Regions from separate parts of the Homo sapiens genome. Here region 1 is linked to region 2. Evidence: fine-mapped expression QTL. A gene starts in region 2. The other region holds a variant in brackets. All regions are shown on one strand. Distances are between the middles of the regions.

Region 1 (5,524 bases), 100 kb before region 2:
TGCCTACTCAGCTGCTTGCCAGACAGTTGGTCAGGGTCTCCCATTGCTGGTCAGTGGGTAGAGAGAAAAGGAAAGCCATGAGTCAATTTGGCTTCTCTAAGGCGCCACAGACTGTGTTGCTGTGTTCCTCCATAAATGTAAATTTACAACACATCCTTTTATCACAGTCTGGTTTGCTTTAGGCTGCCTTATTTCTGAAGCTGAAGGACACAGTGGTATTTGGACACATCCAGGAAAGGCCTGGCAAATGGTGACTGCTTTTGACCCCAAAGAATCCCACAGTAATTTGGCTCCACAGTGAAAAGTGACCCAGGCTGGGTACTCTCAAACATCCCTCCACCCAGCATATTAATTATTCATAATGTCCTTAAATACTCTTCTGTGATGAAATGTTAAGTGACACATTAAATATTCATCATGATGCATCTAACACAGGGCCAAGGGTAGAATTAAGCAGAACAAATGTGATTTCTGATTATATCTCTTTAATTCTAGGCACTGAACACCCCCAGGCAGCTAGGACTCCCATCCTATTCTGAAAGGAAGCCAAGAAAGTAGATTCCACAACATCCCTTTATGTGCTGCCAAACTGTCTTTAAAATCTTGGCAAGAAGTCCTTTCCTTTCCTTTTCTTTATTTTTTTAACTTTTAAAAATTAAAGTATAATTTATATGCATATATATATGCACCCACATAACCAACACCTAGATCAAGATATAGAACATTTCTAGCAGCCCAGAAGTTTCCCTCATGCTTCTTCTCAGTCAATACCCACCTCCCTGTGCACACACGTGTGCGCACACACACACATCACTATTTGACAGGAAGTTGCTTTTAAATCTAACTTAATCCTTATTTGTGATTGCTGTTCACTTCCTATCATTTTAACTTTGAAGGCAAAGGCCAGGTAGGCCATTGATTTGAAGCTTACTAAAGTGGAAGGATGGAGTATAGGGATGGAGTATAGGAGGCTTTTGGAGGAGTCCAGGCAGAGACGATGATGGCTTGGTCTGGAACCACTGGGGTGAAGCTGGAAAGAAGGAGAGACTTGTTGGGGATGTATTTGAGAGGTAGAGGTAATAGGATTTGAAATGTGACATGAAGGAAAGGAAGGAATCCGGCATGACCTGTAGGTTTTCACTTGAATGTCTTGATGTAGGGGTTACCATTTGTTGGGAAAGGCAAGACGGTGGAGGGGCAGGTTTGAGGGCAGGGTGAGATCAAGAGTTATGTTCGGACTTGTGGACTTGAAATAACTGTTAGGCATCCAAGTGTAGAGTCCAAGTCATCCAGAGATCAAGGAGCTAGCAGGCCTGGAGAGAGATGTATATTTGGGAATCATCTGCCTATCGATGGGTTTTAATGCCTGGAAATGGCATGGAATCACCCAGGACATACAGAGCAAAGAACAAGATCCAAGACAGTCCTGTGCAGACCCACTGCTGAAGCAGTCTGCCTCAATCCTCAAGCCAAAGGGGTGGTTCCACAATCAAACTAGAGGCAGGTGCCTAGGGTAAGAATTGAAGCCATGCTTTCAACATTTTAAAAGTCTTGTTTTGTTAATAAAAACAATCAGGCAGACATGTGGATATTTTACTCTAGCTGGAGTTAGCTACCTGTATAATTTTTAAATATCTGTACATGTGTCTCCATTTTTCTTCTATTTTCTTTCAAATATTTTGGTGTTTACAACCAGGCCCACTTTCTCATCTCGACATGGATTATGGCAGGTGCTTGAGAAGTTTCTGGAGGAGATGTCCAACACAGAAATGAGTTTCATTTTTATATAATTAGTAGAAACATAAGATACAGAAAATTGTGCTGTTCACAGAATTTGATTGGAAGGGCTATGTGATCGAGGGCAATTTACTTAACTCTCTAAGCCATCGTGGCCCAATAGAGCTTTCTGAAAATGTTCTAGATCTGCACTGTCCAACGTGGCAGCCAGTAGTCATGAGTCTATTGATAACTTGAAATGTGACTGTTACTCAGAAACTAACTTTGTATTTTTTTTTTTTCCTGAGATGAAGTCTTGCTCTGTCACTGAGGCTGGAGTGCAATGGCGCAATCTCGGCTCACTGCAACCTCCGCCTCCCAGGTTCAAGCAATTCTCCTGCCTCAGCCTCCCTAGTAGCTGGGATTACAGGCACCCGCCACAGTTTCTGGCTAATTTTTGTATTTTTTAGTAGAGACATAGTTTCACCATGTTGGTCAGGCTGGTCTGGAACTCCTGACCTCAGGTGATCCACCCACCTCTGCCTCCCAAAGTGCTGAGATTACAGGCATGAGCCACCACGCCTGGCCACTTTTTAATTTTAATTAAATCAAATTTAAATAGCCGCATGTGGCCAGTAGCTGTTGTATTGAATAGAGCAATTCTAGGTCTTTATGCTCAACTATAAAATAAAGTGTTCATGCTAGAATCAATCTCTAAGCTTCCTGACATAGTTCCCAGTGCAGTGGCACATATTAGGCACTCAATAAATATTTGTTGAATAGATGTTTGTAGAATGAAAGTTAGCCAAATGAATAAAGATGTGAACAAATGATTAATGTGTCATCATGGACTATCATAAATAGAATTAATTTAGGATAACTTCTTGGAAAACCAAGAGTTTTGGAGGCTGAAAAGAAACTCTGGCACTGGCTGCAAGTGGGTGGGAACTCTTGGCAGTCATTCATGTGGGAACAGAACCAGGTAGAATCCAGATCACACTTGCCTTTCCACTTCCTCTATACTTGGAAAAGCAGCTTCCTCTTTGGGAGTATTTTCATAACCCAAGTCTCCCAGTGGGAAGGACTCTCAGTGCTGGAACTACAGGATGGGAAGAATGTCAGGAAAGAGGGAA[C/T]AATTGTTAGGAAGCCACAGTGATGGCTGCCAACACTTGCATTCCTATGTGCAGGAAAGACTTCCTTCAGACACAGCTCAAAATAGCCACTGCCCCCAAATTTGCTGGTTAAAATAAGTCGGTAAGTCACAACCACCCATCTTGGCTTTGACTCTCTCTTCATTTCTGTCCTGAGGAGTCTCTCCCTTGTCAACATGGATTATGGCAGATGCCTGAAAAGTTTCCAGAGGGGCTGGCCAACACAGGAGGCAGGGTCCCTGTAGCTAGAAGACCCAGCTGAAAAATTTGCCTTCGACGGAAACATGAACATGATAGGCGGGTGAGAGTAGGGGCATCGTGTATTGGTCTCTGTCTCCTCCATGAAGGAGCACTGCATCTCCACCACACACAGTTCTGCTCAGAACCAAAGCTGGCAAGCTTAGCTAGGCTTTCTCTTTGTCTCTCTCTCTCTCTCTCTTTCTCTCTCTCTCTCTCCTCTCTCCTCTCTCTCCTATCTCTCCTCTCTCTCCTCTCTCTCCTATCTCTCCTCTCTCCTCTCTTTCTCCCTTTCCTCTCTCTCTCTCCTCTCTCCTCTCTTCTCTCTCACCTCTCTCTCTTCTCTCTCTCCTCTCTCTCTCTTCTCTCTCCTCTCTTCTCTCTCACCTCTCTCTCTTCTCTCTCTCCTCTCTCTCTCTTCTCTCTCACCTCTCTCTCTTCTCTCTCTCCTCTCTCTCTCTTCTCTCTCTCTCTTCCTCTAATCTATGAACTTTTGTTTTTTTTGGTGGGAGGGGGTGATTCTTTATTGTGGTAAAATGTACATAGCAAAATTTACCATTTTAATAATTCTTGAGGGTACAATTCCATGGCATTACCTACATTTACAATGTTTTACAAGCATCACCACTATCCATCTCCAGAACTTTTTCATGGTTCCAGACTGAAACTGTGTACACATGAAACACTAACTCACCATTGCCCACTCCCCCAGCCCCTGGTAACCACCATTCTATTTTCTGTCTCTGTAAATTTCATTACTCTAGGTACTTCATATAAATGGAATCATAAAACACTTATCTTTTTATGATTGGCTTATTTCACTTAGCATAATATCTCTAAGCGTCATCCATGTTATAGCATATGTCAGAATTTTCTTCATTTTAAGGCTGAATAATATATTCTATTGTATGTTATGCCACATGTTGCTCATCCACATTTGGGTTGCTTCCACTTTTTAGCTATTGTGAATAATGCTGCCGTGAACATGGGTGTACAAGTATCTGTTTGAGCTCCTGCTTTTAATTCTTTGGGGTATAGGCATAGAAGTGAAATTGCTGGATCATATGGTAATTCTATGTTTAACCATTTGAGGAAATGCTTTTATTTTTAAAGCCATTCCTAAATTCGTTTTTTATCCTTTAGTTCTTGAATTTTATTTCTAATTCTCAACTCCTATCTGTATGTATGCTTTCAGCATTTCATATCCTAGGTCTTACCTTTTCATCTAAAAGCTCAATTTCTTATTTCTTTTTACTTTTTAAAACAACTAATGAGTACTAGGCTTAATACCTGGGTGATGAAATAATCTGCACGACAAACCCCCATGACACAAGCTTACCTCTGTAACAAACATGCACTTGTACCCCTGAACTTAAAATAGAAGTTAAAAAAAAAACTGTAGCTGCTAGTCTTTTATTTTAAAACTCATCTATGTTACCTAATCTCACATGTGTTTCTTTAATCTATAAGCTTTTTGCTTCATTTTTAAACCATCTCCAACGAGTCCTTTTTATTTCAGTAGTTTATTTTTTTAACCTAAACATTGATATAGTTGACTTCTTGTATCTGTGATGTGTCTTCCACGAATCTGTCATATTTCTGAGAGTTATAAATGTTTCTCTTCTGGAGTGCTTTATAAGGGGCATTGGGAAGGTTATACTGAATGGGGGAGGAGGAAGACAGTGTGATGGGGGTTTGTCGTGGATCAGGTTCCCTGGGAAACAGACTCTGAGACAGATTTGCATTCAGAAGGTTTTTGGGGGAGGGCATTCAGAACACCTGCAAGGAAGTGAGAGAAGCAGGACAGGGTGGAGGGAGAAGTCAACTGGGATGCAGTTGAAACAAAAGCCTTAGTCCCCCAGGGAGCTCTGAAACTGGGATGGCCTTTCAGAGATACATATCCCAAATTGAGGCTGGGGGCTGGGCCTTTATTCATTAGAAACTTGCATGTACCAGGCAGCTTAATCTTGGGTAAGGAAGTTCCTTCCCTGGAGGGTAATGCTGGGGGAGGACTCTGTGTACACTGTCACTAGGTGAAGCTCCTAGGGTGGGGCTGGGTGAGCTTAGGGAGCACCGCAGAATCCACCACAGGTTCTCAAAAGAAAACATACTGTATTCCAGGGAGGTAGGGCCCCATACTCCAACTCAGTGAGGGCCAGTCAGTCTGGGGGAGTGTATTAAAATTATCTGGGCAGAAAATTTGATAGGCCTCTCCCTGCCAAGCGTGCATAGTTTGAAGAGGTAAATCTGATCTTTCTACCCCAGCACCCCTTCCCAAAGTGGAGAACCACTAGCCTAGGCCAAACTGACAATACCTCAACTTCTTATAAATGGCTTCTACAAGGGTTGAGTCTATTTACAGGCCTGGCCCCACTCCTTTGGCCCAAGGTACAGTATGTCCACCCAGTTCCTGGAAATGG
Region 2 (5,000 bases):
TGATCAACACAAGCGTTGCACAGTGTGATACAGTAAAGCAAACACTGGATTTGGAAATGGTCCAAGATTTTAGGCCCAGCTCTGCTGCTAACTAGCTATGTGAGCTTAAGCAAATTGCTAAACTTCTCTGGGCCCCAAATACAAAGTAAGGACTTTATATGTGTCCTAAGAAGCACATAATCAAAGTCTTCCAGACAAGGCAAATACATGAAAGGGAATGGAAATAGTCACTTATGAAGGAAAGACATTTCACAGCTGGGAGAAGCTTGTGACCATTTGTCACAGGACTATCCTCTGCTCTGGTCTTCCTTGCCATTGATTAATATTAATTTCAGTACTAATTCCTGCAAAAGAAGGAATAAATCATTTTCTAAGTCAGACATAGAAGTACATGAAACATCTGGTCTTTAAAAATAGGGTCTTTGCCTTTCCATGAGCTATCATTGCAGCAAGCAGTCTGTCTCATTCTAAGATTTAAATATATGAATGATTGATTATACTGCTACTCTAATCACCAGCTCAAAATATATACGCAAAATAATGAGGTGGCTGTCACATTCCAGTGTTCTGGAGTTTTGTAAGAGAAAGAGTTTTACGTGGTTGCCCAGTTTTGCCATTCCACAACATAAGTGACTGCCTGCATTGTCTGGCACTGACCAGGAGGTGAAACGGAAGATGAAGGGACAATAAAAGGACATGGGTGCCTGTTGTGCCCAGGAGAGCCGGAGGTGGAAATCCTATGGAATAAATGAGCAGTGTTTTCTATGGTGAGCTCAGTTTTTCCTCACTCCTCATCCTAGGAATCACAGCAGCATCTTGGGCTCAAAAAGAAGAAATGTTGAAACTCCAGAGCAGATAGCAACGCAAAGAGACACTCCTTGGGGAATTCAATCTGACAAGTATGTACCAAGTCTCCACCATTTACAAGGCACTTTGGTAGTTGCTAGAAATATAAGTTGGCTAGGACCTACTCTGTGCCCTAGAGAACCCCATGGTTGGGAGTGGTGGTGGGAAGTATTGACCACAAATCACTTACTTAAAATTGAATTGTCAGCTAACTTTGGGTGGGTGAGGAGCTGTCTAGACAATAGTTCCTCTTCTGTAAATGATTTGAATGATACAATAAAAAACAGACTTTTTAAAGCCTAGGGTTGAGTTATATTAGATTGCTAAAATTTCTGGAAACAAATTGTGTTCAAAGTAACCACAATAATTTGGAAAAATAAGTTTAAAGAAGATACATGTAAGTTATCTCTGGGCCCAGATCAAGCAAGAGGTACAAGTTGCAGAATGAATGTCCTTCCAGTTTAACAACTAGAGCGCTGCAAATTCCCTACCACAAGGGCAGTGCCAAAATATTAAGTAAAAAGTCTAGGTACAGGTCCTGCTCTCATCCCTTCCACGACAGGCTTGAGTCATAAAGCTGGACTTTCTAACCACACAACTTCGACTTCGTGAATTTCCTTTCCCATTTTTCCTCTTATTTCCCCGCCAACAGGAAACCTGTGTAGTGGATAAAGACCAGGCTGTCACTGCTAATCCCAATCAGAAACTTGGTCCTTGATTCTTCCCAGTGGCCGACATCTCCGCTGCGAAAACGGGTGTGAACTATTCACTAAAGCAGCAGGGCCCGAACGCCTTTAACAATCCATTTCCTTCGGACTCCGTTTGCGAAGCCCATCAGCACCCATTACTCCCTTTGGCTTCGCATCCTAGCAGAAGCTAAATTGTTTAAACCCCCGCTCCTCCCCAGGGTTTGGCGGTCCTCGACCCTCAAGGGAACCTGGGATGCCGGCGCCAGGCTTGCCTCTGGCCCAGGGCGCCCGCCTGGCCTGCACTCCCTCCCTGGACACTGGGCCCGCCTGCCCTCCCCGGGCTGTACCTAGGGGTGTGGAGGCCAGGGGGCCGGCGCCCGCGGGGCCGCGGCGGGAGCTCTCCCGGCCCACGGGCCGAAAACCCTGGCGACTGGGACGCGGCCAGGCGGGCCGGGGGCGAGGGGCGCTGACCAGAAGCGGGCGGAGCCTAGGGGCCCGGGCCGGCAGCCTGACTCCCCGTGGGCCGGCTCTGCTGGGTGGGCATTCCCGCGGGGCGCCGAGGTACAACATGAGGGCTCTTTCGCTGACACCGAGGGGCCTTGAGGGCTGCAAGAAATGCAGGCCCGGCGGCTGCCCCCGAGAGCGGGACGCGCGCCCGCGCGGTGGGCGGGAATCCTAAGGGGACGCGGAGGCGGGCGCGCGCCCCGCAGGGGAGGGGGCGGAGAGCGCGAGAAGGAGGGAGGAGGCGTCCCCGTGCGGGAGCCCGGCTGACCGCGCCAGACCCAGACAGAGCATCGCGGCTTTGGCTGCAACAGGCGGTGGGCTCGGCTCGGGGGCGGAGGCGGCGAAAGGGCGGGGAGCGCGAGGAGGAGCGACCTGGCCTCACCGCTGCCGCCTCTTCCCCGCCGCATGGACGAGCGCCTCAGCCTTCTGCGCTCGCCGCCGCCGCCCTCAGCCCGCCACCGCGCCCACCCTCCTCAGCGCCCAGCGAGCAGCGGCGGTGCCCACACGCTGGTGAACCACGGCTACGCGGAGCCCGCCGCAGGCCGCGAGCTGCCGCCCGACATGACCGTGGTGCCCGGGGACCACCTGCTGGAGCCGGAGGTGGCCGATGGTGGAGGGGCCCCGCCTCAAGGCGGCTGTGGCGGCGGCGGCTGCGACCGCTACGAGCCGCTGCCGCCCTCACTGCCGGCCGCGGGCGAGCAGGACTGCTGCGGGGAGCGCGTGGTCATCAACATCTCCGGGCTGCGCTTCGAGACGCAGCTGAAGACCCTTTGCCAGTTCCCCGAGACGCTGCTGGGCGACCCCAAGCGGCGCATGAGGTACTTCGACCCGCTCCGCAACGAGTACTTCTTCGACCGCAACCGGCCCAGCTTCGACGCCATCCTCTACTACTATCAGTCCGGGGGCCGCATCCGCCGGCCGGTCAACGTGCCCATCGACATTTTCTCCGAGGAGATCCGCTTCTACCAGCTGGGCGAGGAGGCCATGGAGAAGTTCCGCGAGGACGAGGGCTTCCTGCGGGAGGAGGAGCGGCCCTTGCCCCGCCGCGACTTCCAGCGCCAGGTGTGGCTGCTCTTCGAGTACCCCGAGAGCTCCGGGCCGGCCCGGGGCATCGCCATCGTGTCCGTGCTGGTCATCCTCATCTCCATTGTCATCTTCTGCCTGGAGACGCTGCCGGAGTTCCGCGACGAGAAGGACTACCCCGCCTCGACGTCGCAGGACTCATTCGAAGCAGCCGGCAACAGCACGTCGGGGTCCCGCGCAGGAGCCTCCAGCTTCTCCGATCCCTTCTTCGTGGTGGAGACGCTGTGCATCATCTGGTTCTCCTTCGAACTGCTGGTGCGGTTCTTCGCTTGTCCTAGCAAAGCCACCTTCTCGCGAAACATCATGAACCTGATCGACATTGTGGCCATCATTCCTTATTTTATCACTCTGGGTACCGAGCTGGCCGAACGACAGGGCAATGGACAGCAGGCCATGTCTCTGGCCATCCTGAGGGTCATCCGCCTGGTAAGGGTCTTCCGCATCTTCAAGCTGTCGCGCCACTCCAAGGGGCTGCAGATCCTCGGGCAAACGCTGAAGGCGTCCATGCGGGAGCTGGGATTGCTCATCTTCTTCCTCTTTATTGGGGTCATCCTTTTCTCCAGCGCGGTCTACTTTGCCGAGGCAGACGACCCCACTTCAGGTTTCAGCAGCATCCCGGATGCCTTCTGGTGGGCAGTGGTAACCATGACAACAGTGGGTTACGGCGATATGCACCCAGTGACCATAGGGGGCAAGATTGTGGGATCTCTCTGTGCCATCGCCGGTGTCTTGACCATCGCATTGCCAGTTCCCGTGATTGTTTCCAACTTCAATTACTTCTACCACCGGGAGACAGAAGGGGAAGAGCAATCCCAGTACATGCACGTGGGAAGTTGCCAGCACCTCTCCTCTTCAGCCGAGGAGCTCCGAAAAGCAAGGAGTAACTCGACTCTGAGTAAGTCGGAGTATATGGTGATCGAAGAGGGGGGTATGAACCATAGCGCTTTCCCCCAGACCCCTTTCAAAACGGGCAATTCCACTGCCACCTGCACCACGAACAATAATCCCAACTCTTGTGTCAACATCAAAAAGATATTCACCGATGTTTAATATGTGATACAAGTGACATGCTGTGCTCAGTATTGTGTGGAACGTGCCCCCTTGGTCTGCCTATGCCCTTGTTTTATACATTTCCAGACCATTCATCAAGGAAAGGACCTGAAGAAGTGGAAAGCACACTTCATTCTCCCTCTCCCTGCTGCTTCATACTGAAACAGGTGCCTGTTTTGCAAGTGGGCTGCATTCTCTCAGCTCTCCTTTTCCCTCTTACCCTCTCTCTCTTAACATTGTAAACAACAGACTTACGTTAAACTTCATTTCTAGTACACGCCCTATTTAAAAAAGAGCAGTACATCCTGGGAGGAAATGAAACTAAAGAACAGTTAGAGTAACTGTTTAACCTCAGAATTTTAAAGGCAGTTGTTTCTTTCCTAAGCACATCAATTCGTAGTAAATGATGCTTCGGTTTGATGGACCTTTCAACGTTATTTATTGAATATGTATTTCGGTTGCCTACCCTGTAGATATGTGGATGAAGAGTCTAACTAGAATAATGACTTGTAAACCCACCATGAGTTATTTGGTTTTTGACTTAAATTCCTATTTGAATCCCCTTTCCCGGAATTTTAAGTGTCTCTACAACTTTGAATAAAGGGAAATGCCCAAGATGTCCTGATCTGACTAATTAGTTTAATTCTTTCGGGCTTGCTAAGCATTTCTAAAGCATTAGACTAACAGATTCCTGTGAAGTTCTGTGCATATGTCCCAGCCCCAACAACTATCAAAGTCTAGAAACAGATGTTTTCAGTGTTGCTGAGAGAAACAAAAAATTTCCTAATGCATCTGAGAGATAAGCTTCGGCAGTATCACAAGAAGATT

Alleles and levels. Positions count from the first base shown, and alleles are read on the strand shown. Sizes are in standard deviations (SD) of each study's normalised expression.
For the expression in thyroid of the gene that starts at base 2,314 in region 2, T is the low allele of the variant in region 1 and C is the other (small effect, 0.26 SD a copy in GTEx).

What was found. PIP is the estimated chance that this variant, and not a neighbour inherited with it, causes the effect.
Region 1: its variant is fine-mapped to the expression of KCNA3 in thyroid (GTEx, PIP 0.96).

The regions. Positions count from the first base shown.
Region 1 is chr1:110,771,833-110,777,356 of GRCh38, reverse strand. LOC105378901 (a long non-coding RNA gene) reads left to right here and starts at 3,013. Exons shown (of 3, transcript XR_001737801.2): 1 at 3,013-3,168. The variant C/T (reference allele first, on the strand shown) is at 2,850.
Region 2 is chr1:110,672,254-110,677,253 of GRCh38, reverse strand. KCNA3 (potassium voltage-gated channel subfamily A member 3) reads left to right here and starts at 2,314. Exons shown (of 1, transcript NM_002232.5): 1 at 2,314-4,789. The coding sequence starts at 2,445. The coding sequence ends at 4,172. RefSeq lists silencers at 2,189-2,248, 2,319-2,368, 2,479-2,578.